Linked DNA regions of Homo sapiens: all the other regions are linked to region 4. Evidence: fine-mapped expression QTL. A gene starts in region 4. Each other region holds a variant in brackets. All regions are shown on one strand. Distances are between the middles of the regions. Region 1 overlaps SELENOO (selenoprotein O). Region 2 overlaps MOV10L1 (Mov10 like RNA helicase 1). Region 3 overlaps MOV10L1 (Mov10 like RNA helicase 1). Region 4 holds the start of PANX2 (pannexin 2).

The links. PIP is the estimated chance that this variant, and not a neighbour inherited with it, causes the effect.
Region 1: its variant is fine-mapped to the expression of PANX2 in whole blood (TOPMed, PIP 0.98).
Region 2: its variant is fine-mapped to the expression of PANX2 in whole blood (INTERVAL, PIP above 0.99).
Region 3: its variant is fine-mapped to the expression of PANX2 in testis (GTEx, PIP above 0.99).

What each region holds. Positions count from the first base shown.
Region 1 is chr22:50,210,759-50,218,758 of GRCh38, forward strand. SELENOO (selenoprotein O) reads left to right here. Exons shown (of 9, transcript NM_031454.2): 5 at 1-153; 6 at 4,959-5,109; 7 at 5,933-6,118; 8 at 6,214-6,370; 9 at 6,447-6,858. The coding sequence ends at 6,611. TUBGCP6 (tubulin gamma complex component 6) reads right to left here. Exons shown (of 25, transcript NM_020461.4): 21 at 7,945-8,000; 22 at 7,730-7,862; 23 at 7,431-7,644; 24 at 7,160-7,359; 25 at 6,936-7,069. The coding sequence ends at 6,978. Among named protein-coding and RNA genes, the nearest start is that of SELENOO-AS1, 4.6 kb to the left of the region's middle. The variant C/A (reference allele first, on the strand shown) is at 3,125.
Region 2 is chr22:50,094,845-50,102,844 of GRCh38, forward strand. MOV10L1 (Mov10 like RNA helicase 1) reads left to right here. Exons shown (of 27, transcript NM_018995.3): 3 at 4,599-4,758. Among named protein-coding and RNA genes, the nearest start is that of MOV10L1, 8.8 kb to the left of the region's middle. The variant C/T (reference allele first, on the strand shown) is at 4,628.
Region 3 is chr22:50,128,711-50,136,710 of GRCh38, forward strand. It overlaps MOV10L1 (Mov10 like RNA helicase 1), which reads left to right. Exons shown (of 27, transcript NM_018995.3): 14 at 5,297-5,355; 15 at 5,820-5,920. Among named protein-coding and RNA genes, the nearest start is that of PANX2, 38 kb to the right of the region's middle. The variant A/G (reference allele first, on the strand shown) is at 3,713.
Region 4 is chr22:50,166,440-50,174,439 of GRCh38, forward strand. PANX2 (pannexin 2) reads left to right here and starts at 4,292. Exons shown (of 3, transcript NM_052839.4): 1 at 4,292-4,517. The coding sequence starts at 4,292. RefSeq lists a silencer at 3,466-3,525 and an enhancer at 5,125-5,817.

The DNA.
Region 1 (8,000 bases), 44 kb after region 4:
AGCTGGGGGAGGCCATCCTGGCCGAGGAGTTTGACGCCGAGTTCCAAAGGCACTACCTGCAGAAGATGCGCAGGAAGCTGGGCCTCGTGCAGGTGGAGCTGGAGGAAGACGGGGCGCTGGTGTCCAAGCTCCTGGAGACCATGCATCTGACCGGTGAGTGACCCAGCCGTGCCCACAGCAAGGCGCCTCCCGTGCTGTTGTGCTTAGAGATGGTTTACCTTCTGGCTTCCAGGTTCCAAGTGCACAGTCACTCCCTGGGCCCACCCCAGCCCTGGCACCCCCATTCTACTCTCTGTCTTTATGAATTTGGTGAATCTAGGACCTGCTGCGAGTGGAGTCATACGGTGCTTGTTCTGTAGTGACTGCTTATTTCACTTAGCATAAGGTCCTCAATGTTCACCCAGGTCCGTATCAGGATTTTATTCCATTTGAAGGCTGAGAAGCATCCCGTTGTGTGGACAGGCCGCAGTTTGCTTATCCACGACATACTGGCGTACGTGTTCCTCTTCTGGCTGTTGCGTACGGTGCACTGTGTGTTGTGTGCCGTGCTGCCATGAAAGCGAATGCAGAGATCTCTGACTCCCTGCTTTCAGTTCCGTGGGGTGTACAGGTGGTAGGATTGCTGGGTCGTGTGGGTGACTCACTGGGTTGCACTAGCTAGGACGTGTATGTTGAACAGAAGGAGCTGAGATGGGCATTCTTTTCTTGTTCCTGACCTTCGGGGAAAAGTGTTCAGTGTTTCACCCATTGAGTGTGATGTTAGCTGTGGGCTTTTACCATGCTGAAGTTTTCTTTCAGAATGCTTTTACCATGAAAAGCTATTGCATTTTATCAAATGCTTTTTCCTGCAATGAAGATGGTCATGTGGTTTTATTATTTCATTCATATCTCCTTGCATTCTGGGGATAAATTTTACTTGGTCCTTTTAATATGCTATATGATTATTATTTTTAATATTTTTTGAGACGGAGTTTCACTCTTGTTGCCCAGGCTGGAGTGCAGTGGCACGATCTTGGCTCACTGCAACCTCCACCTCCTGGGTTCAAGTGATTCTCCTGCCTCAGTCTCTCAAGTAGCTGGGATTACAGGCACCCGCCACCACACCCGGCTAATTTTGTATTTTTAGTAGAGACAGGGTTTCGCCGTGTTGGTCAGGCTGGTCTTGAACTCCCGACCTCAGGTGATCTGCCCACCTCAGCCGCCCAAAGTACTGGGATTATAGGCGTGAGCCACCGCACCCAGCCATATGCTGTATAATTATTTTAATATGCTGAATGTTGCGAGTATTTTGAGGATTTTTGCATCTGTATGCGTAAGGGATACTAGCTTAGAGTTCTGCTTTTTCTTTAGTGTCTGTTTGGCTTTGATGTCAAGGTGGTGCTGGCCTCAGAGTGAGTTAGGAGGTATGCGCACATCTTCCATTTTTTTCCTTCAAAGTTTGAGAAGGATTGCCATTTGTTCGTAAGAGTATTTGGTAGAAATCACCAGTGAAGCCATCTGGTCCTGGGCTTTTCTTTGTTGGAAAAATTTTGATTACTGATCAGTCTCCTTGCTTGCCTTACCTCAATTTAGATTTTCTTTTCTTCTTGAGTCAGTTTTGGTAATTTATGTTTCCAGGAATTTTCTGTGTCAGGTAGTTTGTCCATGTCTTGTAGGTAATTTTGGCATATAATTGTTCGTAGCAGTTTTTTACAATTTCATTGTGGTAGGAACACAACATGGATCTATCCTCTTAAATTGTGGAGGGCACCGCACATCACAGCTGACGCAGGAGCAGTGCTGTACAGCCGAGCCCTGGAGCTTGTTCACATCCGCCACCCAAACCCTGTGTGAGCCGGTTACCAGCTCCCCATTCCCCTCCCTGCAGCCCCTGGTAGCAACCACTCCGCTCCGAGTCTGTGAACCTGACTGCTCTAAACCCTTCATGTAAGTGGAGTTACACAGCGTGTGCCTGTTTCTTCAGTCTGTTGTCTCCCTCTAATCTTCGTGTAAGTGGAGTTACGCAGCGTGCGCCTGTTTCTTCAGTCTGTTGTCTCCCTCTAATCTTCGTTTAAGTGGAGTTACGCAGCGTGTGCCTGTTTCTTCAGTCTATTGTCTCCCTCTAATCTTCGTGTAAGTGGAGTTACGCAGCGTGTGCCTGTTTCTTCAGTCTATTGTCTCCCTCTAATCTTGGCTCTTCTTTCTCCAGTTCCTTAGGCGTGAGTTGAGGTAACTGATTGGAGATCTTCTTCAGTGTAGCCATTTACACTGTGCATGTCTTTCTGGTCACTGCTTTTGCTGTGTCCATCAATTTTGGTATGTTGTGGGTTTTTTTGGTTTTTAGACGGAGTCTTACTCTGTCGCCCAAGCTGGAGTGCAGTGGCATGATCTTGGCTCACTGCAACCTCCGCCTCCCAGGCTCAAGTGGTTCTCCTCCTTCAGACTCCCAAGTAGCTGGGACTACTGGCATGCTCCACCACACCTAGCTAATTTTTGTACTGTTAGGAGAGATGGGGCTTCACCATGTTGGCCAGGCTGGTCTCCAACACCTGATCGCAAGTGATCTGCCTCAGCCTCCCAAAGTGCTGGGATTCTGGGGATGAGCCGCCGCGCCCAGCCAGTGTGTTGTGTTTTTAAGTGATTTCTAGCTTCATTCCATTGTGACTAGAGATGTCAGCCTTTTGAGGTTTATTACAACTTGTTTTGTGGCTTATCTTGGAGAACTTTCTGTGTGCCCTGGAGAAGACGGTGTGCTCTCTTTTGCTGGGCAGAGCGTCCTGTACCCGTGTGCCCTGGAGAAGACGGTGTGCTCTCTTCTGCTGGGTGGAGGGTTCCGTGTATGTGCCTGTTTGGTCTTGTTGGTTTAGGCTGTTGTTCAGGTCTTCCATTTCTCATTGATCTTCTGTCTGGATGGTTTTTTTGTTTTTTGAGACGGAGTCTTGCTCTGTCACCCAGGCTGGAGTGCAGTGGCGCGATCTCAGCTCACTGCAAGCTCCACCTCCCAGGTTCACGGCATTTTCCTGCCTCAGCCTCCCGAGTAGCTGGGACTACAGGCGCCTGCCACCACGCCCGGGTAATTTTTTTGTATTTTTAGTAGAGACGGGGTTTCACCGTGTTAGCCAGGATGGTCTTGATCGCCTGACCT[C/A]GTGATCCACCTGCCTCGGCCTCCCAAAGTGCTGGGATTACAGGCATGAGCCACCGCTCCCAACCCTAGATGGTCTATCCATTATTAAGTGGTGTGTTTAAGTCTCCAACTCTTACTATAGATAGAACTGTTTGTTGTCTGTCCCTTCCATTCTGCCAACGTTTACATTTTTGGGCTTTCTTATTGGGTGCATGTTTATAATTTTTACATTTTTATTGATGAATTGACTCTTTTATCCATATATAATGCTGTCTCTTGTAACGACTTTTTGTTGAGGGTGGATGTGTCTCACTTTGTTGCCCAGGCTGGAGTGCAGTGGCACAGCTGCGGCTCACTGCAGCCTCCACTTCTTGTGCTCTAGTTATCCTCCTGCCTCAGCCTACCAAGTAGCTGGGATTACAGGGGTGAGCACCTTTCCCGGCCCTTCTGACAATTTTTTATTTAAAATCTTCTCTGGCCGGGCATGGTGGCTCATGCCTGTAATCCCAACACTTTGGGAGGCCGAGGCAGGCAGATCACCTGAGGTCAAGAGTTCGAGACCAGTTTGGCCAACATGGTGAAACTCCATCTCTACTAAAAATACAAAGATTAGCCAGGCATGGTGGTGGGTGCCTGTAATCTCAGCTACTCAGGAGACTGAGGCAGGAGAGGCGGAGGTTGCAGTGAGCTGAGATCACGCCACTGCACTCCAGCCTAGGCAACAAGAGCAAGACTCCATCTCAAAAAACAAAAATTAGCCAGGCATGGTGGCGGATGCCTGTAATCCCAGCTACTCGGGAGGCTGAGGTAGGAGAATTGCTGGAACCCAGGAGGCGGAGGTTGCAGTGAGCCGAGATTGCGCCACTGCACTCCAGCCCCGGCAACAGAGCAAGACTCCGTCTCAAAAAATAGAAAACTTATCTGCTGTGAGTTTAAGAGTCGCCTCAGCTCTCTTTAGGTTACTCTTTGCCTGGGTTTCTTCATCCTTTCACTTCCAGCCTGTTCGTGTCTTTGAACGTCTTGCAGATCGTGTGGTGACAACATGGAAATCGTCTTTTCACCCACTTTGCCAATCTGCCTTTTGTTGGAGCGATCAGTCCATTCGCTTTCAAAGCAGTTACTGAGGGGGAGCTTCTGCCATGTTTCTGGTCGCTCACGTTCTCCCTTGCTACCTTTGTGTGTAGTCGACTTTTTTGCAGTACGTTGCTTTGACTCCCTTCTCATTTTGTTTTTAAGACAGTCTTAGGGTCACTGTGGTTTCAGACAGTGTTTTCCAGAGTCAGGGGGAGGATCGCAGTGTCTGTCACAAGTTGGGCCTTTTGCAGGCGGGTTACAGCAGCTTCTCAACACTCGCTAGCTCCCAAAGCAGGCAGTTGTGACTGTGAGGATGTGAGGGCCGGGCAGCAGCCTCTGCCTTCTCAGTATTAGGCCACTTCACAGGTGACTTGGAGGGTGAGCAAATGGCAGCTGCCTGGGCGGTGGATGGGTGGAGGCTGAGGAGTGGGGTGTGGAGGGCTCAGGAGTCCCAGGACCAATGCTGAGCGGGGCTTGTGTGGCACCTGTGCTGGGGGCAGCATTTGGGTCCGTGTGGGTCTCTGTGGCATGCGTGCCAGGTGTGGGTCCGTGTGGCACCTGTGCTGGGGGAGGGTGTGGGTCTGTATGGCACTGTGCCAGGTGGAGGGTGTGGGTCAGGGAGCGTGTGGATCCGTGCTGGCGGTGGGGGGCGGTGGTGGAGCATGTGGGTGGGTCCATGCAGCACCTGTGCCAGGGGGGTGGGGGGGGGGGGGTCTGTGTGGCACCAGGACAGGGACCCTGGGCCTTCTGCTTCCAGCTCCCTGAGCAGCCTGTGTTCCAGGTGCCGACTTCACAAACACCTTCTACTTGCTGAGCTCCTTCCCAGTGGAGCTAGAGTCGCCAGGCCTGGCGGAATTCCTGGCCAGGCTGATGGAGCAGTGTGCCTCCCTGGAGGAGCTGAGGCTGGCCTTCCGGCCCCAGATGGATCCCCGGTGGGTACTCAGTTCCTACTTCTTTGGATTTGTTTCCAGAAAAGGAAGCATAATCAGAAACAGAGGCTGGGGGAGAAGCTAGAGACAGAGCTGGCTGGGGCCCAGGTGGCTGCTCCGCTCCCAGGGACAGATTCAGTCAGGGCTTCAGGGCATCTCTGCGATGCTGGGGCCGGTTGGTCACAGAGTAGAGAGTGGCGAGGCTGACACAGGTGTGGGGGCAGACAGTGGTCTCTGCTGTGGGTGGGCTTCAGAGAAAGCCTCTGGGTTTCTAGGGAGAATGGGCTCCCAGAGGTCAAGCTTTCCCACACCATCTTCCAAAGGGAAGGGCTGCCCTGTCTGAAGAGTCCCGCCCACGTGCAGGATGAGACGTGGAAAATATTGTTGCTTTAACTTAAAAAACAAGACCAGTGGGGTTGGCTGGGAGCACCGGCCAGCAGGCCCTGCTGAGCATAAACCCCCTCCACTGGAGAAGGCGTGGCCCCTGCCCACCTGGACCCTTCTGGAAATGAGGGAAGTGCTAACAGCAGTGCCCATCCCACAAGCATTAAACTCGGGAGGTGGAGACTCTCCAGCAGAAAGCTGGGCAGCAGAGTGGTCCTGCCCCTCGGCCCACAAAGGGCCTTGGCCGAGCATGGGCATGCCTGGTGTGTGCCCACTGGGGTCCATCCCTGCCAGTGGGGTTCCAGGGACCTCGGGGACCGGGCTGCTTGGGCCCTTGGACTCTAGGTGAGCCGTGAGAGCGGGCTGGGGCAGGCGGAGCAGCTGCCTGCAGGGCAGGGACACGGTCAGGGGCTACCTCCCAGACACCCTGGCCTCTCCACAGGCAGCTATCCATGATGCTGATGCTGGCGCAGTCAAACCCGCAGCTGTTCGCGCTTATGGGCACCCGGGCAGGCATCGCCAGGGAGCTGGAGCGTGTGGAGCAGCAGTCTCGGCTGGAGCAGCTGAGTGCGGCAGAGCTGCAGAGCAGGAACCAGGGCCACTGGGCTGACTGGCTACAGGCGTACAGGTGAGCCCTGCGTCCATGGTCACCGGGGGACGGCGGGTCGCGTGCTGGAAAAAGTCCAGCCCGGCTGTGACTCCAGAGCCCGGATGTCATTCCAGAGCCCGGCTGGACAAGGACCTGGAAGGCGCTGGGGACGCTGCCGCCTGGCAGGCTGAGCACGTGCGCGTGATGCACGCCAACAACCCGAAGTACGTGCTGAGGAACTACATCGCGCAGAATGCCATCGAGGCTGCCGAGCGCGGGGACTTCTCAGAGGCAAGCACACGCCTGTCCCTGTGGTCCCTGGGAGGGGGGTCGGCCCCAGACCCCTCTCACCCTCCTGATCCTCCAGGTGCGGCGGGTGCTGAAACTACTGGAGACCCCTTACCACTGCGAGGCGGGGGCCGCCACAGACGCCGAGGCCACGGAAGCCGACGGGGCGGACGGCAGGCAGCGCTCCTACAGCAGTAAGCCCCCGCTCTGGGCAGCAGAACTGTGCGTGACATGATCTTCGTAACGGCCTCGGCACGCTCCACACCCCTGGAGTCTCCCGAGGCCCCCATGTGCTGCTGAGTGGCCAAGATGATGCCAGGCTGCCCTATACACTGGGGGATTCTGCCCTGGCCCATGCACACCCGTCTTTCCATGATGGCAGAGACATCCAGTCAGGACCTGACCCGTCTCTGTCTGAGGCCGGCTCAGCAGTGCAGCCTGGTCCCTGGGGGCTGGACCCAGGCTCCTAAATAAACCAGCAACTCCCTCGAGTCTGTCTCTGTGGTCATTGTTCCCCCACCCTGCCCTGTCCTCAGCCCCCACCCAGGAGAGAGAGCTGCAGACAGGGTCCGAGAACACCTTTATTGTGCACGTCCCCCGCAGAGCAGCCTCAGGCGTCCTGGTAGTAGTTGTTGAAGTTGATGCGCAGCAGAAAGTCCTCCAGGTGGGGCTGGTAGCCGCGGTTCACCAGCTTGGTCACCACTGGGGACCAGCGAGCAGCTCAGGCTTTTGCCCACAGTGTGAGCCCCGCCCTGGCCCCCCCGCAGCCCTCCCAGCCAGGGTGGGCCTCACCTTTGAAGAGAAAGTGGGAGTAGTACTTGAAGGTGTTGTAGGACTGCTGCATGAGTGCAAAGTTGGGGTGCTCTGCACCCCGCGGGCCCCCAGGGGGCCCCCAGGCCTGGGAGATGAGCTGGCTGCGGAACTTGAGCACGAGGCTGAAGATGCTGTGGATGACGTTCATGACGGGCGCCGCCTTCTCCGTGAGCAGGCCCCTGGGGGGAAGCAGTGCTGCTGGGTGGGCTGAGCCGTGACCACAGGGACGCAGCCGCTGCCCAGGCCTCACCTGAAGACGGCCTTGTGCAGGTACTCTGCGTGCGCACGCTGGATCTCCTCCAGGTCGCCCACGGTGGCCAACCTGGCCCTGAACTCGCACCAGGTGACGTGCAGGATCTGGTTGGCGATGTAGCCCTGGATGACCTTCACGAAATGCTGCATCTCGTGCTTGAACAGCTGCAGCTGACGGAACTGCACAGAGCCGGCCATGTGGCTCAGCAGGGCTGGCGGAGGGCAGAAGGCAGAGGGCAGAGGTGAGCGCAGCCTCCAGCCAGGGGTGCGGGGCGCCGGGCTCCAGCGGGGCCTCACCTGTGCGCTTGAGGTGGAAGCAGACGTCCTTGAGCGCCCACATCATGAGCTTCAGCTGCAGCAGGAAGGAGAAGACGCCGCTGTACTTGCTCACGCAGCCCTCGGTGATGACAATGTTGAGAGGCCAGTCCACCTGCCAGGAGGCGTGGCTCAGCAGGCATCCCACAGGCAGGCAGGCCCCTGTCCCATCCCCCGCGGCCAGGGCTGCTGCTGACCTTGTACCTGAGCTCCAGGCAGCTCAGCACATCCGGGGCGTTGGGGGCAAACACCT
Region 2 (8,000 bases), 72 kb before region 4:
CAATAAAATAATTCAAAGTCTAGAATTCCATCATTCAATATGGTAGCCACCACTCATGTGCAGCAGTTTCGATTTATTAAAACTAAATGCAACTTACAGCCAGGCGCGGTGGCATAAACCTGGAGTCCCAGCACTCGGGAGGCTGAGGCGGGAGTTCGAGACCAGCCTGGGCACATAGAGACCCTGTCTCTTAAAAATAAATAAATAAAAGTGTTTCCTCAGTTTCCCTGGCCACATTTCAAGTGCTAACTGAAGCCTAGTGACTACCAAATTGGGCAGCACACATAGAGAACATTTCTGTCAGCTCTGGCTTAGAGACTGTGAATGCAAAGTAGAAGAGCCTCCCTCCACGTTCCCCACCTGCACTTTCATGCTGCAGACCTGATGCTCTTCTGGGTTTCTGTTTCTACCTTATCTGGTAGATAGTTGAGTCACTTAAACAATATGCTTGTATCTTTTATTAATTCACCAATGTTAGTATTTATGGACTTCCATCATCAGAGATGTACAACTGGCTCATTCACACTACCCTCTTTTCCTCTCCCAATTATTTAATTATATTTTTTCCTCCAAAGATTTCCTTTTGAACTTGAAATTATACGATAGTCCTCATGTTTTTGTGTGTATTTAAAGGAGTACTCTGGGTTCAGAATCTTTGAAAGAGGATCTGGAACCCAGAACCTGTAGAGATGATGTTTACCTCATTCTCTGAGCTGTGGTCGTGTACTCACACGCGGCCTTCCAAAGCAGGTTCTCATACCAAATTCCCGTTGATTTTAAGATACACCATTAATTTGATAATGAAAATTTAAAATGGAAACGTAGGTTGTGAGACTCATTCTGATCTCAGAAATGTGACAATGTGGAAAAACTGGCCCCTGGGTGTCCAGCAAATCCCAGCCCTCTTGGTGGTCAGCTGCCCTTCACTTGTTCCATCTTGTAAGGAATGCAGGACCTTTTTTGTTATGGTGAAGAGGGTTCATCTCTACTCACAATCTTGCTTTTATAAATTAGTAATGGATTTTTCAAGTACTTTTCAGTATCTTCCAAATGATCCCATAGTTTCTGTCCCTTTGCTATTAATATGGTGGAAAATACAGTTTCTGTGTTGTGAGCCGTTCTCACTTGATGGGAATGATCCCCATTTGGTATAAACCTGAATGTACTTCTGGATTTATTTTTTATTTAGATATTTTTCTTGTGGTAAAATATGCGTAATATACCATTTTAACCATATTGAAATGTACGGTTCAGTGGCATTAAGCACGTTCACATTGTTGCGCAGCCATCACCACAATCTGTCTTCAGCACTTTTTCAGCATCCCAGTAGACACTCTGTACCCATTAAACAGTTATTCAGTGTTCTACTTTATGTCTCTATGAATTTGCCCATTCTAAATACCTCATATAAGCGGAATCATGTGTCTGGCTATTTGACTTCTGTTTTCAAGATTTGCCCATGTAGCATGTATCAAAAGTTAATTCCTTTTTTATGGCTGAATATTCCATTGTGTGAATAAATCACATTTTGTTTCTCCATTCATCTGTTGATGGACACTTGGGTTGTTTCTACTTTTTGGTTGTTGTGAATTGTGCTGCCATGAACAAGTCTGTCTGAGTCCTTGTTCAGTTCTTTTGGGGCTACGCCTAGGAAGAGAATTGCTGGGCTGTATGGTAAGTCTAGGTTTAACTTTGTGAGGAACCAGATGTTTTCCACAGCAGCTGCACCGTTATATGTTCCCACCAACAGTGCATGAGGCTGCCACTTTTTCTGTATCCTTGCCAACACTTGCTATTTTCTTTTTCTTTTTTTTTCTTTTGACAGTAGCTATTCCTCGTAGTTGTGAGGTAGTATCTCACTGTGGTTTTGATTTGCATTTCCCTAATGATTTGTGAGGGCATCTTTTCATGTGCTTATTGGCCATCTATATATCTTCTTTGGAGAAATATCTACTCAAATCCTTTGCCCGTTTTGAAATTAGGTTGTTTTCTTGTAGTAGGAATTCTTTATATATTCTGGATATTAATCTCTCATCACATACATGATTTGCAAATACTTTCTCTCATTTTATCAATTGTCTTTTCACTTTCTTCATGGTATCCTTTGATGCACAGATGTTTTAAATTTTGGTGGAAGTCTAATTTGTCTCTTTTATTGCATGTACTTCTGATGTCACACTCAAGATACCATTGACTAATCCAAGATTATGAAGATTTTTTTCTACCAAGAGTTTTATAGTTTTTGCTTTTAAATTAAAGTCTTTGATTCATTAAAAAAAATTTTTTGAGACAGGATCTCACTTTGTTGCCCAGGCTGGAGTGCAGCAGCACAGTCACAGCTCACTGCAGCCTCAACCTCCCAGGCTGAAGTGATCCTTCCACCTTAGCCACCTGAGCAGCTGGGACTACAGGTGTGTGCTGCCTCACCCAATTTTTGTATTTTTTGTAGAGATGGGGCCTCTCTATGTTGCCCAGGCTGGTCTCGAACTCCTGGGCTCAAGTGATCCGCCCATCCCACGCCTTTCCAAATGCTGAGATTATAGGGGTAAGCCACCACGCCTGGCCTCTTTAATCCATTTTGAGTTAATTTTTGTGTTTGGTGTAAAACGAGAGTCTAACTTTATTATTTTGCCCATGGTTATTTTCCCAGCACTATTTTTTTTTGAGACTGCACAATTGCAGTTTATTGAATGGTCCTTGTCAAAAATCAATTGACTGCACATGCAAGGGTTTATTTCTGGGTCTCTTTACTATTCCATTGGTTTATATTTCTGTCCTTACACTGGTGCCACACTAGTTTGATGACTGTAACTTTGTAGGAAGTTTTGAAATCAGGAGGTATGAAACCTTCAATTTTGTTACTCCTTTTCAAGACCATTTTGCCTATTCATGGTCCCTTGAGATTCCATTAGAATTTTAGATGAGTTTTTCTATTTATATAAAAATAGACCCATAGGACTTTGATAGGGATTGCGTTGCATTTGTTGGGTTTTTTTGTTGTTTGTTTGAGACAGAGTCTTGCTCTGTCACCCAGGATGGAGTGCAATGATGTGATATTGACTCATTGCAACCTCCGCCTCCCTGGTTCAAGCAATTCTCATGCCTCAGCCTCCCAAGTAGCTGGGACTGCAGGTGCTTGCCACTACACCCAGCTAATTTTTTTTGTATTTTTAGTAGAGATGGGGTTTCACCATGTTGACCAGGCTGGTCTTGAACTCCTGACCTCAAGTGATCCACCTGCCTCAACCTCCCAAAGTGCTGGAATTACAGGCATGAGCTACCACACCCAACCTGAATTTGTGTAATAGATCACTTTGGGTAGTATTGTCATCTTAATAATTAAGTCTAAGATTGTCATCTTAATAATAATTAAGTATTAAGATTAACATCTTAATAATAATTATTAAGATTAACATCTTAATAATCACATAATCACTTTGAGTAGTATTATCATCTTAATAATTAAGTCTTAAGATTGTCATTTTAATAATATTAGGTTTTCCAATTCATGAACGCGGTTGTCTTGCTGTTTATTGAGGTATTTAATTCATTCATTAGTGTCATTTTACGTGTCTTCCATCTCCTTAGTTAGGTTACTAAGTGTTCTGAGGAATTAACCTATTAACCTAACAGTGCTGTTATAAATGGAATTGTTTTCCCTTTCTTTGGATCATTTTTCTTGATTTCCTTTTTGGATTTTTCATTGCAAATGTATGGAAATCTGATTTTTGTATGTTGACTTTGTGTCCTGTGCTGGATTCATTTATTAGCTCTAACCATTTTTTGTTTCATTTACGTGTGTGGAATCTTTAGAGTTTTCCACAGATGAGATCCTACCATCTGTGAATAAAGATAATTGAAATTTGAAAGTCTTGAAGTAAGCATGGGCATCCTTGCCTGGTTCCTGATCTTAGGGGAAAGCTTTCGGCCTTTCACCATTGAGTGTGGTGTTTGTTGTGAGATTTTTGTTTATGGCCTTTCTCGTGTTGAAGAGATTTCCTGCGATTCCTAGTTTATTGAGTGTTTGCATCATAAAAAGTGTTGATTTTGTCAAATGCTTTTTGTGCATCAGTTGAGATCATCGTGATTTTTTCCCTCATCTTATCAATGTAATATGTTGACTGATTTTCATATGTTGAAACACTTTTGCATTCTGGGATAAACCCCACTTAGTCATGGGGTATAATCCTTTTAATATGCTGCTGCATTTGGTTTGATAATATTTCATTGAGGATTTTTGCATCAGTGTTCATAAGGGATTGCTATAGACTCAATGTTGGTGTCCCCCAAAATACGTATGTTGAAATCCTGACCCCAGTGGAATCTTATTAGGAGGCTTTGGTGGGTGACTGGGTCACAAGGGCAGAGCCCTTATGAAACATACCCCAGAGAACCCCTTTGCCCTTTCTGCCATGTGAGGACACAGCAGGAAGACACCGACGGTATACCAGGAAGAAGGCCCTCACCAGACCCGGAATCTGCCAGGGCCTTGATCTTGGACTTGCAGCCCTAATGGTCTCAGACAGGCATGCCAGCCTGTAGTTTGCTTTTCTTGTAGTTCTCGTATTATGGTTTAGAGCGGTGTGTTTGTTTTACAGGTAGAAGCTGTCTCTGATAAGTGGGAAGA[C/T]GACAGCAGAAACCATGGGAGTCCCTCAGACTGCGGCCCCCGAGTGTTGATTGGCTGTGTGACTTCCCTGGTGGAGGGCGCAGGCTGTATCAGTCAGACCACCTACTTCTCTCTGGAGAGTGTGTGCGAAGGTATGCTCAGGGGTCTGTGTTCCACATTGAAAATTAGGTTTTGTCTTTTAAAGAATTGTTATGGACCAGGCACGGTGGCTCATGCCTATAATCCCAGCACTTTGTCAGGCTGAGACAGGAGGATCGCTTGAGCCCAGGAGTTGGAGGCTGCAGTGAGCTATGATCCAGCCACTACACTCCAGCCTGGGTGACAGAACACAACCCTGTGTCTATATTTGTGATGGCTACACACAACATTGAAGGGATCAGTTTTGGGCATGCTTTGTTTGTTGAGAGGGTTTCGGGATTAGAGTAGCTTCTCCAGGTGCTGGCTTCACACAGAGGCTCTTGGATATTGAGTGGACTATGGGAGAGGGCACCAGGTCACTGTTTTGTTTTTTTTGTTTTTGTTTTTGTTTTTGTTTTTCGAGATGGAGTCTCACTCTGTTGCCCAGGCTGGAGTGCAGTGGTATGATCTCAGCTCACTGCAACCTCTGCTTCCTGGGTTTGATTGATTCTCCTGCCTCAGCCTCCTGAGTAGCTGGGATTACAGGTGTGCACCACCATGCCCAGCTAATTTTTTGTATTTTTAGTAAAGATGGGGTTTCATCAGGTTGGCCGGGCTGGTCTCGAACTCTTGACCTTAGGTGATCCACCTGCCTCGGCCTCCTAAAGTGCTGGGATTACAGGCATGAGCCACCACACCCAGCCAGGTCACTGTTTAAACTTGTGCTTTTATGTGTTTTGTGTTCATTTGTTAAATGCAGTCAGTAATTTCTGGGTAGTTGTTGCTTCCATATAATTATAGTGTTATGATCTAAGTTAGTGTTACTGGCATGCTGAGGTACTATTTAAAGTACTTTAGATGTTTTAAAATAGGGCTTGGGGATGACATTGTACGTTTCCTAAAGTATATATCCTTTTTCTTTCTTTCTTTCTTTCTTTTTTTTGAGATGGAGTCTCACCCTGTCGCCCAGGCTGGAGTGCAGTGGCACGATCTCAGCTTACTGCAACCTCCGCCTCCTGGGTTCAGGCGATTCTCCTGCCTCAGCCTCCTGAGACTACAGGTGCCCACCACCACAGCAGGCTAACTTTTTGTGTCTTTAGTAGAGACAGGGTTTCACCATGTTGGCCAGTCTGGTCTTGAACTCCTGACCTTGTGATCTGCCCGCCTTGGCCTCCCAAAGTGCTGGGATTACAGGCGTGAGCCACCACTCCCGGCTTTATATATCCATTTTTTATTGCATTTGTTTTTGGCTGATCAAAGGATTTGTTTTTATACCTAAAGAAAGAATATGTCGATGTCATTGACTGAGCTGAACTCAGCAGCGGTTTACTCTACTCCTGCTGCCTATGGTGGTGAAGACGGAGCTGGACTCCATACTCAGGTCTGTTTCTTCTTTCCCAGGAGAAACAGACCTGTGCATACATTGTGGTAGGGCAGGAATTGGAAAAGCTGCCTGGGGAAGTGGCTTCTGAGCTGAAGTCCATTTGCACAGCCCACAGCACTGCCTGTTGGAAGATGAATAGAAGTTTTCTGCTTTAAGCTGGGGGGTGGGAGGTCTGGGGGGTAGCTCTGCCCACCAGGAAGCTGCTGTCTCACTCTTTTTCACCTTGGTTTTTATGTGTATGTGTGTTTTTGTTTTTGTTTTGAGACGGAATCTTCCTCTGTTTCCCAGGCTGGAGTACAGTAGCACAATCTTGGCTTACTTCAAGCTCCGCCTTCCAGGTTCATGCCATTCTCCTGCCTCAGCCTCCTGAATAGCTGGGACTACAGGTGCCCGCCACCACACCTGGCTAATTTTTTGTATTTTTAGTAGAGACGGGGTTTCAATGTGTTAGCCAGGATGGTCTCGATCTCCTGACCTTGTGATCCACCTGCCAAAGTGCTGGGATTACAGGCATGAGCCACTGCGCCTGACCTTTTGTGGGTTTTGTTTTTTTTTTCTTTGTTTGAGACAGAGTTTCGCTCTTGTTGCCCAGGCTCGAGTGCAGTGGTGGCTCACTGTAACCTCCACCTCCTGGATTCAAGCAATTCTCTTGCCTCAGCTTCCTGAGTAGCTGGGACTACAGCTGTGTGCCACCACACCTGGCTAATTTTTGTATTTTTAGTAGACACGGGGTTTCGCCATGTTGGTCAGGCTGGTCTCGAACTCTTGACCTCAGGTGATTCACCCACCTCGGCCTCCCAAAGTGCTGGGATTATAGGCATGAACCACTGTGCCCAGCCTTGACCTTGGTTGTTAACCCTGGGATCCCCAAGATGAAATTGATAGGTGTCTATTGGGATTTTAGAATCTCTGTGCTGCCAGAGAAACGCTCAGTTCTGGGGAAAGGCGCCTATAATCATGGAGGCCCCTCAACCCTGCTAACAGGAAGCCCCTCTCAGGGGTGTCGCCAGGAAATGGCTCAAGAGGAAGAAAACCAGAAATGTTTGATGTTGCAGATGTTGATGGGGCAGAGAAGAGAAGGTGTCCCCTGAGTAATAAAGATGGGCAGGGATCCGGAGCCCAGGCCAAGGGATTTCCCAGTATAAAAAACCTCAAGTGAGGCAAAGTCAGGTCCTCTTGAGGCTGAGAGAGTCACACTCAGACATGTCAGAATTGCTGTGAACACAATCACAAAACCTAAGGACCACAGCAAAAGAACTTTTTTGAAAGAGAAAATACAATGTGCAAAAAGGCTGATACAGAGTATCTAATGAGATCAGCAAACCGGTCAAGCACCGTCTCCTTCAAAGCTCCTCCCCACAGGATGGTCGTACCACGTAGCTGAAAGCAGACATAGCTGTACATGAGCAAAAGGTGCGGCTGTGTCCTCATAAAACTTTATTTATAACTTCTGACCTAAAGGTGGCAAAAGGAAGAATTATGCTAAATTTTTCATTTGCTTGTGGGAGAGTCAGAAGATGCTGTTTCCTTCTTGACGTTAATTCAACAAATTATTAGAGTGCTTGCTGTGCTAGACACTGCTTCAGAGAATTCGCATTTTGAGAGAACAGACAGTAAGCAAGTGAACAAAGAAAATAATTAGCATCAGGCCTGGCACAGTGGCTCACACCTGTCATCCCAGCACTTTGGGAGGCTGAGGCGGGCGGATCACCTGAGGTTGGGAGTTGGAGACCAGCCTGACCAACATGGAGAAACCCCGTCTCTACTAAAAATACAAAATTAGCTGGGCGTGGTGGTGCATGCCTGTAATCCCAGCTACTCTGGAGGCTAAGGCAGGAGAATCGCTTGAACCTGGGAGGCAGAGGTTGCGGT
Region 3 (8,000 bases), 38 kb before region 4:
ATTTTTGTATTTTTAGTAGAGGCAGTGTTTCACCATATTGGCCAGTCTGGTCTTGAACTCCTGACCTTGTGATACGCTTGCCTTGGCCTCCCAAAGTGCTGGGATTACAGGCGTGAGTCACCACGCCCGGCCATCTTTTTTTTTTTTTAATAGAGATGGGGTCCCAGGCTGGTCATAAACTCCTAGGCTCAAGCGATCCTCCTGCGTCAGCCTCCCAAAGTTTTGGGAGTATAGGTATGAGGCACCATGCCCAGTTAATTTGTCTCTTTATCTTTAATTGGACAGTGTTCTCTTGAGTATGTCTGTTGACATCTAAGTAGTGACGTAGGAGCCCCCACCATGCCTGTGGTTGACGTGTATAGGCCTTGTGGATGGAAGTGGGCTCCTACAGCATTTTTGCATACCCCGTGTTTCTAGCTTTATTATCAACTATTTTTTGAGATATAAAGGTGCATACATTTGCATGTGTATTCTTTCCCAGATCTCATGTGCACCGGATCTTTGGTTCATGCCTCACTGTCACCGTCAGCTACCAGCTCCTTACTTTTATTTGTTTTCTTGTCGGATGAGGGGTGCTGTGACCTGGCACCCAGCTGGCTTTTTCTTCCTCCACAAAACCATTAACTAGTCATGCACAAAAAATGTATTCTTCAGTTTTAATTCTTTTGAACTTTAGAAAAGGAGTAACTTGCTGTATTTGGTTCCTAGGAGTCGAGATTTTCACTAAACATTGTGTTCCTGAGATGTCTCCGTGTTGTTGTAACTGCTGTTCATTGGTTTGCGGTTGTGTGAATACCCGCTGTTTTTCTGTTGATGGACATCTTCATTGTTTGCTGTTACGATTGTTTGCTGCTGTTCCTAGAGCTGCTGTGTATGTAGGGATGGGATTGCTGGGTTTGGGGTTTTTCCAGCTTTACAAGTGGTTGCATCAGTGACTTTCAGTATCCATGTGTATAACAGCCTGCTGATCGGTGCCCTTTCTGTAATCTGATTTTGTTCGACTTCCTAATTGGTGCCAGTCTGGTAGGTGTGTAATGCATCTCATGATGGTCTTGATTTACTTTTCTCTGACTTATTTACAAGGCTGAGAATCTTCTTGTTCGTGGGCCGTAAAATGTTCCTCTTCCATGAAATGCTTGCTTGCGTCTTTTGCCCTCTTTTTTATTGAGTAATTTATCCAATTTTCATTGTTGTGGGAGTCCTTTCTGTATTCCTTATGATAAACTATTCTTAGGTACATATCTTCTCCAGATTTCTTCCTTATCTTTTAGCTTTTTAAAAAGTATCTTTTGAGGCTGGGTGTGATGTAATCCCTAACACTTTGGGAGGCCAAGGCAGGTGGATCTCTTGAGGTCAGGAGTTCGAGACCAGCCTGGCCAACATGGGGAAACACTGTCTCTACTAAAAATACAAAACTTAGTGGGCATGATGGCACATGCCTGCAGTCCCAGCTACTTGGGAGGCTGAGGCAGGAGAATTGCTTGAACCCAGGAGGCGGAGGTTGCGGTGAGCTGAGATCATACTACTGCACTCCAGCCTGAGACAGAGCGAGACTCTGTCTCAAAAAATAAATAAATAAATAAATTTTATATATATATGTCTTTTTATTAACAGAAGGTGCTAGTTTTAATATAGTCAAATTTATCAAATTTTTTTTAATATTAGTGCTTTTTATGTCTGTCTGAGAAATCGGCAGTATTTGGGCTACAGCCAGATTGGAATGTATTGAGAATGAATGAATGGACTACGGGGGAATGGAGAAATGTCGTTGATTCCTTTTTAAGGCATTTGCCGATGAAAGCAGGGAGGGCAGGATGGAGAGAGAGCGAGAGAAATTGGTGACCAAAGAGATACAGGAGGACCAGGAGGGGGGTACTTTTTGTTTGCTGTGCAAGATGAGAGACCCCAGCATGTGAGTGCCATGAGAAGACCCAGGAATGGGAAGGAAGGGGCAGCTGTGTTGGATGATGACGTGTGAGGGTTGGCTGGGACCACAGGGAGCAGCAGCGCTGGTAGAAGGCACACAGCCTCCATCATGGCAGCTAGAGAGACTGCAGCCGACGTCCAGGCCTGGACTCCTTGACCTGCTTTGACTCTGGAACAGAGCTGATTCTTGTAGTGTGAAGGGATATCTCGTTGTGGATTTAATTTGTATTTTTCTAATGACTAATGATGCTGAACATCTTTTCTTTTTTCTTTTTTTTGAGACGGAGTCTCGTTCTGTTACCCAGGCTGGAGTGCAGTGGCACGATCTCGGCTCACTGCAAGCTCTGCCTTCCAGGTTCACACCATTCTCCTGCCTCAGTCTCCCGAGTAGCTGGGACTACAGGTGCCCACCACCACGCCCGGCTAATTTTTTTTTTTTTTTTTTTGTATTTTTAGTGAGACGGGGTTTCACTGTGTTAGCCAGAATGGTCTCAATCTCCTGACCTTGTGATCTGCCCACCTTGGCCTCCCAAAGTGCTGGGATTACAGGTGTGGGCCACCACACCCGGCCACTGAACATCTTTTTATGTGCTTTTTTGCCATTTGTACAAAATACTTGTTGAAGTCCTTCCTCAAGTCTTTGGGCCCATTTTAAAAAATTGTTTTCTCATGATTGAGTTTGCAGAGATGTTTGTATAGTTTCAGTACAGTGCTTTATCAGATACGTGTCTGTGCAAATATTTCCTCAGACTACAGCTTGTATTTTCATTGTTTTTATAGTGCCTTTTGAAATGCAGAAATTATTAATTTTGGTGAAGTCCAGTTTATGAATGTTTTCTTTCACAGATCTTTTAATGATGCATCTCAGAAATCTGTAACTAATTTGGATCTCAACGATTTTATCCTGTTTAGAAACTTGGCAGCTTTATCCTGTACATTTAGGATTATGATCTATCTCATTAAGCTTTGCAAATTGTTTGTGGGGTATGAATGGAAATTGGAGGGTGGAATGAACATCCAGTTGTCCAAGCATTATTTGATGAAAAAACTGCCCTTTCTCCAATGAATTACTATTGTACCTTTGTGAAAAAAAAAAAAAGAAAATCAGTTGACCAAATATTTGTTGATCTGTTTCTGAAGACTCTCTGTTGTGTTCCATTGTACACTTGTCTGTCTTGACACCAACATTACAGGGTCTTATTGTCTGTCTTAGTACACTCAGGCTGCATTAGCATAGCACCATAGATGGGGTGGCTTATAAACAACAGAAATGTATTTCTCATGCTCTGGAGGTCAGGAAGCCCAAGGTCAAGGCACCAGCAGGTTCAGTGTCCTGGTGAGACTGCTTCCTGGTTCGTAGGCGGCTGTCTTTTCCCTGTGTCCTCACGCAGCAGAAGGGATGGGAGAGCTCTCTGTGCTCCCTTGTGTAAGGGCACTAATTCCATTCATGAGGCCCCACCCTCATGACCTAATCACTTGCCAAAGGCCTCAACTCCTCATACCCAGTAACATCACATTGGGGATGAAGTTTCACCATACGAAGCTGGGGGGAACACAAACCTAGTGTATGATATGTGCCTTTATGATAAGTCTCAAAATCAGGTAGTATCAAGCCTCCAACTTTGTTCCTTTTCAAGGTTGTCTGGCTGTTCCAGGTCTTTCTTCTTACATGGATTTTAGGTCATGTCAGTCTCTACAGAAAGCCTGTTGGGATTTTGATTGGGATTACATTGAACCTATGGGTCGGTTTAAGGGAGAATTGGAGAATTGAAATCTTAATAATAAT[A/G]AGTCCTCCAGCCCTTGAAAAGGGTATGTCTCTCCATTTATTTGCATCTGTTTTCATTTCTTTTAGCAATATTTTATACTTTTCAGTGTATAGGTCTTATAGATCTTTTGTCAGTTATACCTATTTAAAATTTTTAAATGGCTGTTATAAACAGTAAATTTAACTTAAATTTCTAATTGCTTGTTTCTAGTATTTATAAAAAGCAATTGATTTTTGTATGTTTACCTTGTATCCTGCAAGTCTCCTAAACTGAATAGCTCCAGTAGCTTCTCCTAGAGTCTGTAGAATTTTCTACATATATAATCATTGATTCAAAGAATGACAGTTTTAGGTTGGGTGTGGTGGTTCACACCTGTAATCCCAGCACTGTGGGAGGCCAAGGCAGGCGGATCACCTGAGGTCAGGAGTTTGAGACCAGTCTAGCCCACATGGGGAAACCCCATCTCTACTAAAAATACAAATAATCAGCCGGGCGTGGTAGTGGTCACCTGTAATCCCAGCTACTTGGGAGGCTGAGGCAGGAGAATTGCTTGAACCCAGGAGGCGGAGGTTGCAGTGAGCCGAGATCACGCTACTCATTCCAGCCTGGGCGACAGAGCAAGCCTCCGTCTGAAAAAAAAAAAACCAAAGACAGTTTTACTTCTTCTTCTCTTATTTGGATGCTGTGTATTTGTTTTCCTTGCCTTCCTGCGCTGGTTGGAACTTGTGTGCCAGTGTGGAATAGAAGTGGTGGCAAGTGCTGCACTGGCTTTGTCCCTGGTCTTAGGGGCAGGGCTGTCAGTCCTGAGCGAGTTAGTACAGCGTGGGTGGTAGGTTCCGTAGTGGCCCTCTATCAGGTTGAGGAGATAGATTCTTATTTTAGTGAGTTTTTAATCAAGAATGGATATGGGGCCAAGTGTGGTGGCTTACACCTGTAATCCCAGCACTTTGAGAGGCTGAGGTGGGAGGATCACATGGGCCCAGGAATTTGAGGCTTCAGTGAGCTCTGACTGTGCCACTGCACTCCAGCCTAGGCAACAGAGCAGAGTCTCTAAAAAAAAAAAAAAAAAGAAAGAAAGAATGGGTGTGGGATTTTGTCCCATGCTTTTTTTTTTGGCTTCTTTGGTATTCTCTAGTGGTTTTTACAAAAATTTTTTTAGACAGAGTCTCACTCTGTCACCCAGGCTGGAGTGCAGTGGTGCCATCTCAGCTTACTGCAACCTCTGCCTCCCAGGTTCAAGTGATTCTCATGCCTCAGCCTCCTGAGTAGCTGGGATTACAGGCGTGCACCACCACTATGCCTGGCTAATTTTTGTATTTTTAGTAGAGGCAGGGTTTCATCATGTTGGCCAGGCTGGTCTCGAACTCCTGACCTCAGGTGATCCACCCACCTCGGCCTCCCAAAGTGCTGGGATTACACACGTGAGCCACCGCGCCCGTCCTCTCTAGTGTTTTTCTGTTCTCTATTTCATTGATTGTTGGATTGTTGCTGTGATTTTTTTATATTGACTTAAAGATTGTATCATAAAATTTTCATTACCTTATGCCAGCCTTAATATTTCTGAATGTAAGGTTAGTTATTTTATGTGGTTTTCTTTCCTGCAGGACCACAAGCAGACGGTGTCACTTTGCACTTGAACACGTCATCCACTTAGGTGTAAAAGGTATTACTTTTATAGAATGATAGTGTTACATCTTCACAGAGTATTTTTATAGGCTTCATGTAAAATTTTGTGTAAAATAGTCTCTTCAGTCATAATATTAGAAGTAAAACTTTTGTTATATTCATGTTTTTAATTTTCTATCAAGTTTTAGTGTTTTCTTACTATTTCAACTTAGTGAATAACTAATAATAGCATGCTTAAATAACCGAAAATAAATTTATCTTGCTCGCTTTTCCCTTCATAAATGTAATTTATGAATTTTTACAGATGGGCAAATAAAGGGCTTTGTTGTGAAGAATATGCAGTACTAATAATGCTATAATTTAGAAACAGTATAACAGGCAGGTTAAGAAAGGAAGGGAATAGAATATTAATTGCTTTAGGGTCAGCCATAAACAACCTCTATTAATATTTTTTTAGCTTTTTAGTTATACCCGTGCTCTTACCATTTTTTGTTTTAAAAGTGTTGTTTCCAGAAGAAATTATTTTACAGTCTCCACAAGTGACGGGAAATTGGAACCATGCACAAGACACCAAAAGCAGTGGACAGTCCACCAGCAAAAAGGTAGTGCTCAGCAATGTGGCTTTCTCTACACAGGGGATGGCTCAGCGACGTGGCTGTCTTTACATAGGGGGTGGCTCAGCGGCGTGACTGTCTCTACACAGGGGATGGCTCAGCGATGTAACTGTCTACACAGGGGGTGGGCGTTTCCTTCTCGGAGTATTAGCGCTTAGTTGACTGGAGTATTAGAGCAGTGTGGTTCACAAATAACTCAAAATTGCAGTTAAAATAAAGTGAACTAAAATATTCAAAAATAGATTTAGTGTAAAGTTTATATGCAAGGGCTAAGATGCAGGGCTAAGATGGCTACAATATATTAAATAGGGGAAGCAAAGTACAGATGTTTATATGACCTTAGAGTTGGGTTTTTTCTTTTTCTTTTTTCTTTTCTTTCTTTTTTTTTTGAGACAGAGTCTCGCTCTGTCACCCAGGCTGGAGTGCAGTGGTGCAATCTTGGCTCACTGCAACCTCTGCCTCCCAGATTCAAGTGATTCTCCTGTCTCAGTCTCCAGAGTAGCTAGGACTACAGGCATGTGCCATCACACCCAGCTAATTTTTGTATTTTTAGTAGAAACAGGGTTTCACCATATTGGTCAGGCTGGTCTCGATCTCCTGATCTTGTGATCCACCCTCCTCGGCCTCCCAAAGTGCTGGAATTACAGGCGTGAGCCACCACACCCGGCCTTAGAGTTTTATTTTTAAATTATATGGTTTATGTGTACACTTAGGTACATTTATGTGATTGTGTATGCATGGAAAATGTCTGGAAGGATACACACCCCGCAAATTGTTAACATTTGCAAACTTTGTGAATGTTGCAAAGATATTTTATAAAAACTTCTAGGCCGGTCGCAGTGGCTCACGCCTGTAATCCCAGCACTTTGGGAGGCCGAGGCGGGCAGATCATGAGATCAGGAGTTCAAGACCAGCCTGGCCAAGATGGTGAAACCCCATCTCTACTAAAAATCCAAAAATTAGCCGGGCATGATGGTGTACACCTGTAATCCCAGCTACTCAGGAGGCTGAGGCAGGAGAATCACTTGAACCCAGGAGGCAGAGGTTGCAGTGAGCCGAGATCACGCCACTGCACTCCAGCCTGGGCAATAGAGCGAGACTCCATCTCAAAAAAAAAAAAAAAAAGCTTCTATAATCCAGTCACTCCATAAATAGTAATATAGTGCCTATTACATGCCAGGTATTGTCCTGGGCTCTCAGTATATTTTTGTGAATACAATAGAAGTGGTTTTATTTATCTTCATGTTTCTAGTAACAAGAAAATCATCTGTGTCATGGTGGAGCTTACAACTTATTTTGTGCTATTCAAATTTGGTTTTATGAGCATGTTTTCAATGTATAACATGAATTTTTAAATTATATCTAATACTCAAAAATGCTCACCATTTTATAGTTCCTCCCCCAAAATGCAAAAATGATAGGTTTAGAATGCCTATACAATCATGGAAAATACGACAAATGAAGCAGCAAGAGGTTATCCTTGAAAGTCATCTGTGGCATATTTCATAGTTGATCTCTTTTTTGTTCTGCAAATAGAAAAGAGTCTTCCTTGGACAGTGCTTTTCTTCTCCGTCATCACCTCATTACTGGTTCATTCTACTGCCTGATTCTCGGGGAGAGTCTGTGGTGCAGATGGCATGTGAGATCAGGGAGGTGTTACTATTTAGGTGGGCACATTCCTAATTGACTGTAGGTTTTAAAACCTGAAACTTTATCTTCTTATGGATTAACTAGATTGAAAATAAACTCAAGAATATTTCATATGTCAACCAAGATAGAATTTCAGGGACCAGATTTATCTTCCTTCCTGAAACAATAAAAAATCAGACAAACTATATGGAACAACAATTTCAGACATTAACATCAGCTATCATAGGACAGGGATTCCTGAGAGAGGAAACAAATGAGGTGACCTCATGGTTTTCCCAACTCACAGCCTTCCGAGAGTGTCTAGGCCAGAGAGCACCAAGAGGGAGCCCAGGCGGAGTGCAGTGACCTGAGTACAGAGACAGCATTTGGAAGGGTGGGGAGGACAAGGGGGATAAAGCTGACAGAGTAGAGTGCTGGG
Region 4 (8,000 bases):
CAGCGTGGCCCACATCTCCAGTCCCAGCGTGGCTCAAGCCTGCAATCCCAGCGTGGCCCACGTCTCCAGTCCCAGCGTGGCCCACGTCTCCAATCCCAGCGTGGCCCACGTCTCCAATCCCAGCGTGGCCCACGTCTCCAATCCCAGCGTGGCTCAAGCCTGCAATCCCAGCGTGGCTCACACCTGCAATCCCAGCGTGGCTCACGCCTGCAATCCCAGCGTGGCTCACGCCTGCAATCCCAGCGTGGCTCACGCCTGCAATCCCAGCATGGCTCATGCCTGCAGTCCCAGCGTGGCTCACACCTGTAATCCCATGCCTGCAATCCCAGCACTGTGGGAGGCCAAGGCTGGGTTGGGTGGGGGTGGGGGGATCAGGAGTTTGAGACCATCCTGGGCAATATAGTGAGACCCCGTTTCTACAGATAAAAAAATTTTAAGGCCAGGTGCAGTGGCTTATGCCTGTAATCCCAACACTTTGGGAGGCTGAGGCAGGAGGATCACTTGAGCCCAGGAATTCGAGACCAACCTAGGCAACATGGCGAAACCCCATCTCTCAAAAAAATTAGCCAGGTGTGGTGGTGCATGTCTGCAGTCCCAGCTACTCAGGAGGCTGAGGTGGGAGGATCCCTTGAGCCCAGGAGATGGAGGATGCAGTAAGCCAAGATCCCACCGCTGCACTCCAGGTTGGGCAACAGAGTGAGACCTTGTCTCAAAAGATAATAGTAAAAATTGCTGGGTGTGGTGGCTCATGCCTGTAATCCCAGCACTTTGGGAGGCTGAGGTGGGCAGATCATGAGGTCAGGAGATCGAGACCATCCTGGCTAACACGGTGAAACCCCGTCTCTACTAAAAACAAAATACAAAAAATTAGCTGGGCGTGGTGGCAGGTGCCTGTAGTCCCAGCTACTTGGGAGGCTGAGGCAGGAGAATTGTGTGAACCCGGGGGGTGGAGCTTGCAGTGAGCCGAGATCGCGCCACTGCACTCCAGCCTGGGCAACAGAGCAAGACTCTGTCTCAAAAAAATAATAATAATAGTAACAATTTTAAAAAGCTGGGCATGGTGGCGTGCATCTATAATGCCAGCTACTTGGGGGGTCAAGGTGGGGGGATTGCTTGAGCCCAGGAGTTCAGGGTTACAGTGAGCTCTGACCAGTGATGCAGTGCTCAGGGTTTGAAGAGAGCGTGCACACAAACCGCTAGAGATAAACTCAAAGCACCTGGAAGCTACACCCGCCCCCCCTTCCCCCCGAGAATGGCAGATACTAGAAGGTGGATAGGGCTGAGAGCTGGAAAGAAGACAGGGATGGTGAGAGCATGGACTGGCCGAGCACTTCTGGAAAGCATGGAGAGGCACCCATGCGAAAGCAGAAAGTGCATCTGGAAAACAAAGGCAGCCACCCAGCAGCCACACTCGGGTCGCTCGGAGGGGCTGGAACTCACTGCACTGGGTTATCTGGGAGTGACTGAGTTGTCGGGGAGGGGGGGTGACTTGGTTATGTGAGGGGTGGCTGGGTTCTCTGGGGTGATGGTTATCTGGGGGTGACTGGGTTATACGGGATGGGTTATCTGAGGGGTGCCTCGGTTATCTAGGAGATGACTGGTTTATCTGGTTACCTGAAGGGTGACTTGGTTATTTGGGGATGATGATTTTATCTGGGATGACTGAGTTATCTGGGGGTGACTGAGTTATCGGGTGAATAGGTTATGTGAGAGGTGACTGGGTTATTTGGGGTGACTGGTTTATCTGGCAGTGACTGGGTTATCTGGGGTGAATAGGTTATGTGAGGGGTGCCCGGGTTATTTGGGGTGATTGGTTTATCTGGCAGTGACTGGGTTATCTGGGGTGAATAGGTTATGTGAGGGGTGCCCGGGTTATTTGGGGTGATTGTTTATCTGGCAGTGACTGGGTTATCTGGGGTGAAAGGTTATGTGAGAGGTGACTGGGTTATTTGGGAGGTGACTGGTTTATCTGGCAGTGACTGGGTTATCTGGGTTGAATAGGTTATGTGAGAGGTGACTGGGTTATTTGGGAGGTGACTGGTTTATCTGGCAGTGACTGGGTTATCTGGGGTGAATAGGTTATGTGAGAGGTGACTGGGTTATTTGGGAGGTGACTGGTTTATCTGGCAGTGACTGAGTTATCGGGTGAATAGGTTATGTGAGAGGTGACCGGGTTATTTGGGAGGTGACTGGTTTATCTGGCAGTGACTGGGTTATCTGGGGTGAATAGATTATGTGAGGGGTGCCCGGGTTATTTGGGGTGATTGGTTTATCTGGCAGTGACTGGGTTATCTGGGGTGAATAGGTTATGTGAGGGGTGCCCGGGTTATTTGGGAGGTGACTGGTTTATCTGGCAGTGACTGGGTTATCTGGGGTGAATAGATTATGTGAGGGGTGCCTGGGTTATTTGGGGTGATTGGTTTATCTGGCAGTGACTGGGTTATCTGGGGTGAATAGGTTATGTGAGAGGTGACTGGGTTATTTGGGAGGTGACTGGTTTATCTGGCAGTGACTGGGTTATCTGGTAGGGGTGACTGTTATCGGGGGGTGAGTTGGTTTATCTGGGGTGCCTGGGTTGTCAGGGTGACTGGGTTATCTGCCAGGGCTGATTTATCTGGAGGTGCCTGGGTTATTTGGGGTGACTGGGTTTATCTGGGGTGACTGGGTGGTTGGGTGCTGGGATTGGATGTAGCTGAACTGCCTGCCTCAGGATGAAGTTTGCTGGAAGTCAGGGGCTGGCATCCCTCAGAAAACATGCAAGGATCTTTAAAAACGCAGACGGCGTGAAAGCTCAAAGCAGACACATCCCCTACGCAGCCCAGGGAGGCAGGGGGACCTCCTGGTTTGCTCACAGCAGTGGCCGGGCCTGTGAACACGGGCTCAAAATACATTTTTGGAATGAATTATTGAATGAACTTAAAACTCCAATCACACTAAATCTTTTATATGAAAGATCGTGCACGTTCGTCCTGGTATAGTGGGAAGGGGACCTGCACGAGGGAAAACGGCTGCCTCGAAGAGGCAGGGACCACGCGGGATGCGCCCGCGTCTGAAGCCAGACCCCCGGCTCCCCGAGGGAGAACAGGACGGAGGGCGGGGCTGTGGGGAGCGGAGGGAATGAAGGTCAGGGAGGCGGCGGGGACCCCCTGAGCTGGCACAGGCCCCGGGAACGTCTGTGGAACAGGGGACGGGATGGGGCGTGGGGGAAGGAGGTGCGGGCTGCAGGAGCGGGGGTGATGGGGTCACTCACGGCGGCGGGACTGGGGGTACTGGGTGGGGGGGTCGGGTGGGGCCGGGGCTGCAGTGGAGGGTGTGGGGCGGGGAGATGCCCTCATTGCCCGCGCACTGGCGCCCGAGCCCAGAGAAGAGAGCGCCGGCTTCCCCGCCAGTGGCCGCAGCACCCCAGGAGCGCGGGAACCTCCGGACCCACAGCGGGGCGCGGCCGGGGCAGGTGGGGGGCCCAGGCGAGGAAGCCCCCTCTGCGCCCTGGGCTGGGCGAAGGGCCCTGCGATGCGACGGGGGCAGCCCCAGCGCGCGCCCAGTCCTCACGTCGCCACCGAGCGGCGCCCCCGCCCCAGCCCGGAGCCCCGCAGGGCCGCCCCCACCCCTGCCCACCCTCCCGCGGGCCGGGGCAGCCCCCCGCCAGCCACCCCGCGTTCCCAGGAAGAGGGACCGGTCATTACTCATTCATGTCCTTTCATTTCATTTCAATATTTTCTGCAAAGTCATCGCCCGCGCCGCATCTGCGTGGCGGGGGGCGGGGTGGGGCGGAGCCACGCCGCGGAGTCGCCGCAGGTAAACAGCCCCCTCCCCGCGGCGGGAGCGGGGCCGCCGGCCCCAGGCAGGGACAGCAGCCGCCGCCCGCGCTCCGGGCCGGGATCCCGCCGCCGCCCCCGCCGGAGGCACGCGCCAGGGCGGGGGCCGGGCTGCGGCGGAGGCGGGCGGCTCCGGTGCCCCCCGCCGCCGCCCCGGCCCGGCCCGCCCGCCCCCTGACCCCGGGGGCGGCGGCGGAGCGCCCCCCAAACCCCGCTGCGGGCTCCGCGCCCGGCCAGCCCCGCACCCGCCGCGCGCCTCCGGCTACTCCCATCCCCCGGAGCCCCCCGCTCGGTCCCGGCGTCCCCTGCCACCCTCTCCCGCGGCCCGCGGCCCCGTCCCCGTCCCGCGCCCCCACGCTCCCCGATCCCCGCCCCCGCGCCGCGCGTCCCCTCCCGCCCGCGCCCCCCTCGCCGGGCCCCGCCCCGCGCCCCCCGCCCCGCCCGCGCCCCCCGCCGGGCCGCGCCCCCCGCCCCCCATGCACCACCTCCTGGAGCAGTCGGCGGACATGGCGACCGCGCTGCTGGCGGGAGAGAAGCTGCGGGAGCTGATCCTGCCGGGCGCGCAGGACGACAAGGCGGGCGCGCTGGCCGCGCTGCTTCTGCAGCTGAAGCTGGAGCTGCCGTTCGACCGGGTGGTCACCATCGGCACCGTGCTGGTGCCCATCCTGCTGGTCACCCTGGTCTTCACCAAGAACTTCGCAGGTGAGGCCGGCGGCCGGGGCGCGGGGCGCGGGCAGAGGGGGCGTCCGCAGGTGTCCGGGAGCTGGCGCTTCCCGCGTCCCCGGCGGCTCCGTCCAGCCGCGCCCACCGTGGCCTGGCTGCGTCCGCGGCGTCCCAGGCACCTTCCACAGCCGCCCCCATCCTAGCAGGTGTCGCTGGTCGCACAGACCCCTCGTCTCTATTTTATTGTTGTTCTTCCTTCCATTCGTCCGCCCATGGCCGCGGGTGGGACTAGGCCTGTCTGGACCCAGGGGTCCCAAATGTCATGAGACACGGGGTCTGGTTTGGAGAATGTCACAAGCAGCGCCTGAGGGGATGCAGGGTGGCCAGGTGGGGACCAGGAAAGGCCGGGATGGGTGTTGACAGCAGAGAGCTGATTACAGGGGCTGGTGGAGCTGCCGGGCAGGGTTCCCAGGCTGGACTTGGGTGGAAGGAGGGCAGAGAGAGTCTCTGAGAGGCCCAGGCCCTCCACCCCTCAGGCAGGGCGAGGCCTCTCCGGGTGCACTGGGGGCCTCCGAAGGTTTGAAGCAGGGGGGCTAGCATGGGGCAGGGCCACGTGTCAGAGCAGGGAGCCTGGAGCTCCTGCAGGGAGATGGGGGCTGGACCAGGGCAGGGACCCGCGCTGGTTAGATCAGGACCTGTGGGGGCACTTGAAGCCACCCAGGCGAGGCAGGAAGATGGACAGAGCAGCCAGCCTGCCTGTGAGCCTCTGCGGGGTGGGGTCCTGGTGCCTCTGCCCTCCCCAAGGAGTGGGGCGAGACAGGTGGAGCCGAGAACTTCCTCCCCTGGGGTCTGGGCCAAGGCAAGGGGGATCAGGGTCTCCTGGCCTGTGTGGCCCAGAGGTACTAGTCTGCAGCGGGGAGGGGTGTTGGGACCCTGGGGCCCTCTCTTCTGCAGCCTCCAAACCTCAGCAGACCCTGCCTCAGCACTGGCGCTTCCCAAATCTCCCAGATGCCTTGCCTTAAGGAGTCCCCGTGGCCTGGAGACACCAGGCCTGAGGGTGGACATTGGCCAGGCTGTCTGATCCCACCCAGGGGTGGAGGAGGCCTCTGCTGGTCTCCTCTTCGACACTGGAGGCCAGACCCCGGGGATTAGAGGACCCCTGGGGTGGGCACACAGCACACTCTGCAGAGCAGGGAGCCCAGGCGTGCGGTGGGGCCTTGGGGCAGGCCCAGCATGTCCAGACACCACGTGTGTTCTCTGTGTTTGTAGCAACCAAGTACCGCAAACTAGGCAGTTTCAAACAGCAGACATTTATCTCTCATGGTTCCGGAGGCCAAAAGTCCAAAATCGAGGTGTCGGCAGGGCCCTGCTCCCTCCCACAGCTCTAGGAAAGGGACATTCCAGCCTCTTCAGCCTCTGGTGCTGCCGGCAATCCTTGGGCGCCTTGGCTCGTGGCCGTGCCACCAGTCTCTGCCTCTGTCTTCTCATGGGCTTCTTCCCTCCCTGTCTGTGTCCAAATTTCCTTTTTTTTTGAGACAGAGTCTTGGTATGTCGCCCAGGCTGGAGTGCGGTGGTGCGATCTGCAACCTCCACCTCTCGGGCTCAGGTGTTCTTCCTGCCTCAGCCCCGAGCCCCCAGTAGCAGGGACCACAGGCATCCCACACCACACCCAGCTAATTTTTGTGCCATGTTCCCCAGGCTGGTCTCAAACTCCTGGGCTCAAGTGATCCTCCCATCTCAGCTTCCCAAAGTGCTGGGACTACAGGCGTGAGCCACTGTGCCCTTTTCTCTTCTTCACCACCCCCCCGCTTTTTTTATTTTTATTTTTTGAGACAAAGTCTCGCTCTGTCACCCAGGCTGGAGTGCAGTGGTGCGATGTCGGCTCACTGCGACCTTTGCCTCCCGGGTTCAAGCGATTCTCCTGCTTCAGCTTCCCAAGTAGCTGGGACTACAGGCACCCGCCACCACGCCTGGCTCATTTTTTTTTTTTTTTTTTTGAGACAGAGTCTCGCTCTGTCACCCAGGCTGGAGTATAGTGGCGCGATCTCTGCTCACTGCAAGCTTCGCCTCCTGGGTTCACACCATTCTCCTGCCTCAGCCTCCCAAGTAGCTGGGACTACAGGCGCCCGCCACCATGCCCGGCTAATTTTTTGTATTTTTAGTAGAGACGGGGTTTTGCCATGTTGGCCAGGATGGTCTCGATCTCCTGACCTCGTGATCCGCCCACCTTGGCCTCCCAAAGTGCTGGGATTACAGGCGTTGAGCCACCGTGCCTGACCCATTTTTTGTATTTTTAGTAGAGACGGGGTTTTGCCATGTTGGCCAGGCTGGTCTCGATCTCCTGATCTCAGGTGATCCGCCCGCCTCGGCCTCCCAAATTGCTGGGATTACAGGCATGAGCCACCGCACCCGGCCCAACTTTCTTCTTTAAAGCGGAAAGGAAGCGAGCGCTCTGCCCCCGAGCACCCTCCCAGGAGCCTATGGGCTGGTTCCTCTTTTTGGCTTCATCATCCTTGGAGGGCCGAGCGCAGCCCCTGATGCCGCAGGGCAGGGTTGGGCCTGAGGGCCCGTGTGGCCAGCTGCTGTCTCAGGATGCAGTACCCTCGAAGGTTGGGGGCCAAGTCCCAGGGTCTCCAAGGTGGGCTGGGGAAGGGTCTCGGCCCCCCTCAGCCTGCAGAGAGTGGAGAATGTAGCAGGTGCGCAGCCACCGCCAGGATTAGCTTCCTGTGGCTGCTGGAACAAACCTACAAGTCAGAAGCCAGATGCGAGTCTCATGGGGCTAAAACGAAGGTGTCAGCAGGGCTGGCTCCAAGGGGGAACCCACTTTCTGCCTTCTCCGGCCTCCAGAGGCCTCCACATTCCTGGCCTTGCAGCCCTTCCTGCGTCCTCAGAGCCGGCTGCGTGGCGTTCTCTCTCCCAGCCCCACTTCTGTCCTCACATCTCCTCCCTGACTCTGACCCTCTTAGAAGAACCCTGCAATTGCTGCCCACCAAGACCCCCAGCCTAGGCATGTCTGCAAAGTCCTCGTGAACCGGGAAACGTGACACCGCCACAGGCTCCGGGGTTGGGATGTGGCATCTTTGGGGGCCATGATTCTGCTCACTGCAGACCCCATGTGGAGGTCTGTAAGGCCAGGGGAGTCGGGGAAGGGCCAGGGCCTGGCCTCGGCTGAGGGCTTCCAGGATGTGGCAGTGGTCTGGGGTGACCAGACAGGGTTTGGCCAGCAGGCAGGAGGAGGCTGCGCAGAGCCAGGGGTGTCCTGGAGAGGTGTCCCCACTCCCCAGGTGGGAGGACAGGGGTGGAAAGGGCTGTTGGGAGGGACCCAGCTTCACCCTTGGGGGGCACCTTGGGGCCATGTGCAGGCCAGATCGCAGGGGTGGGCTGGAGATGAGCTTGGGGATGGCAGAACCGAAGAAGGGCAGGACTGGGGGAGGGCCGGGGGGGCTGGGCTTTAGCCTCGGGTCCTGGGGACGGCATTCTGAATATGGGAATATGGGCCGTGTTGGGGTGTATTCAGACACC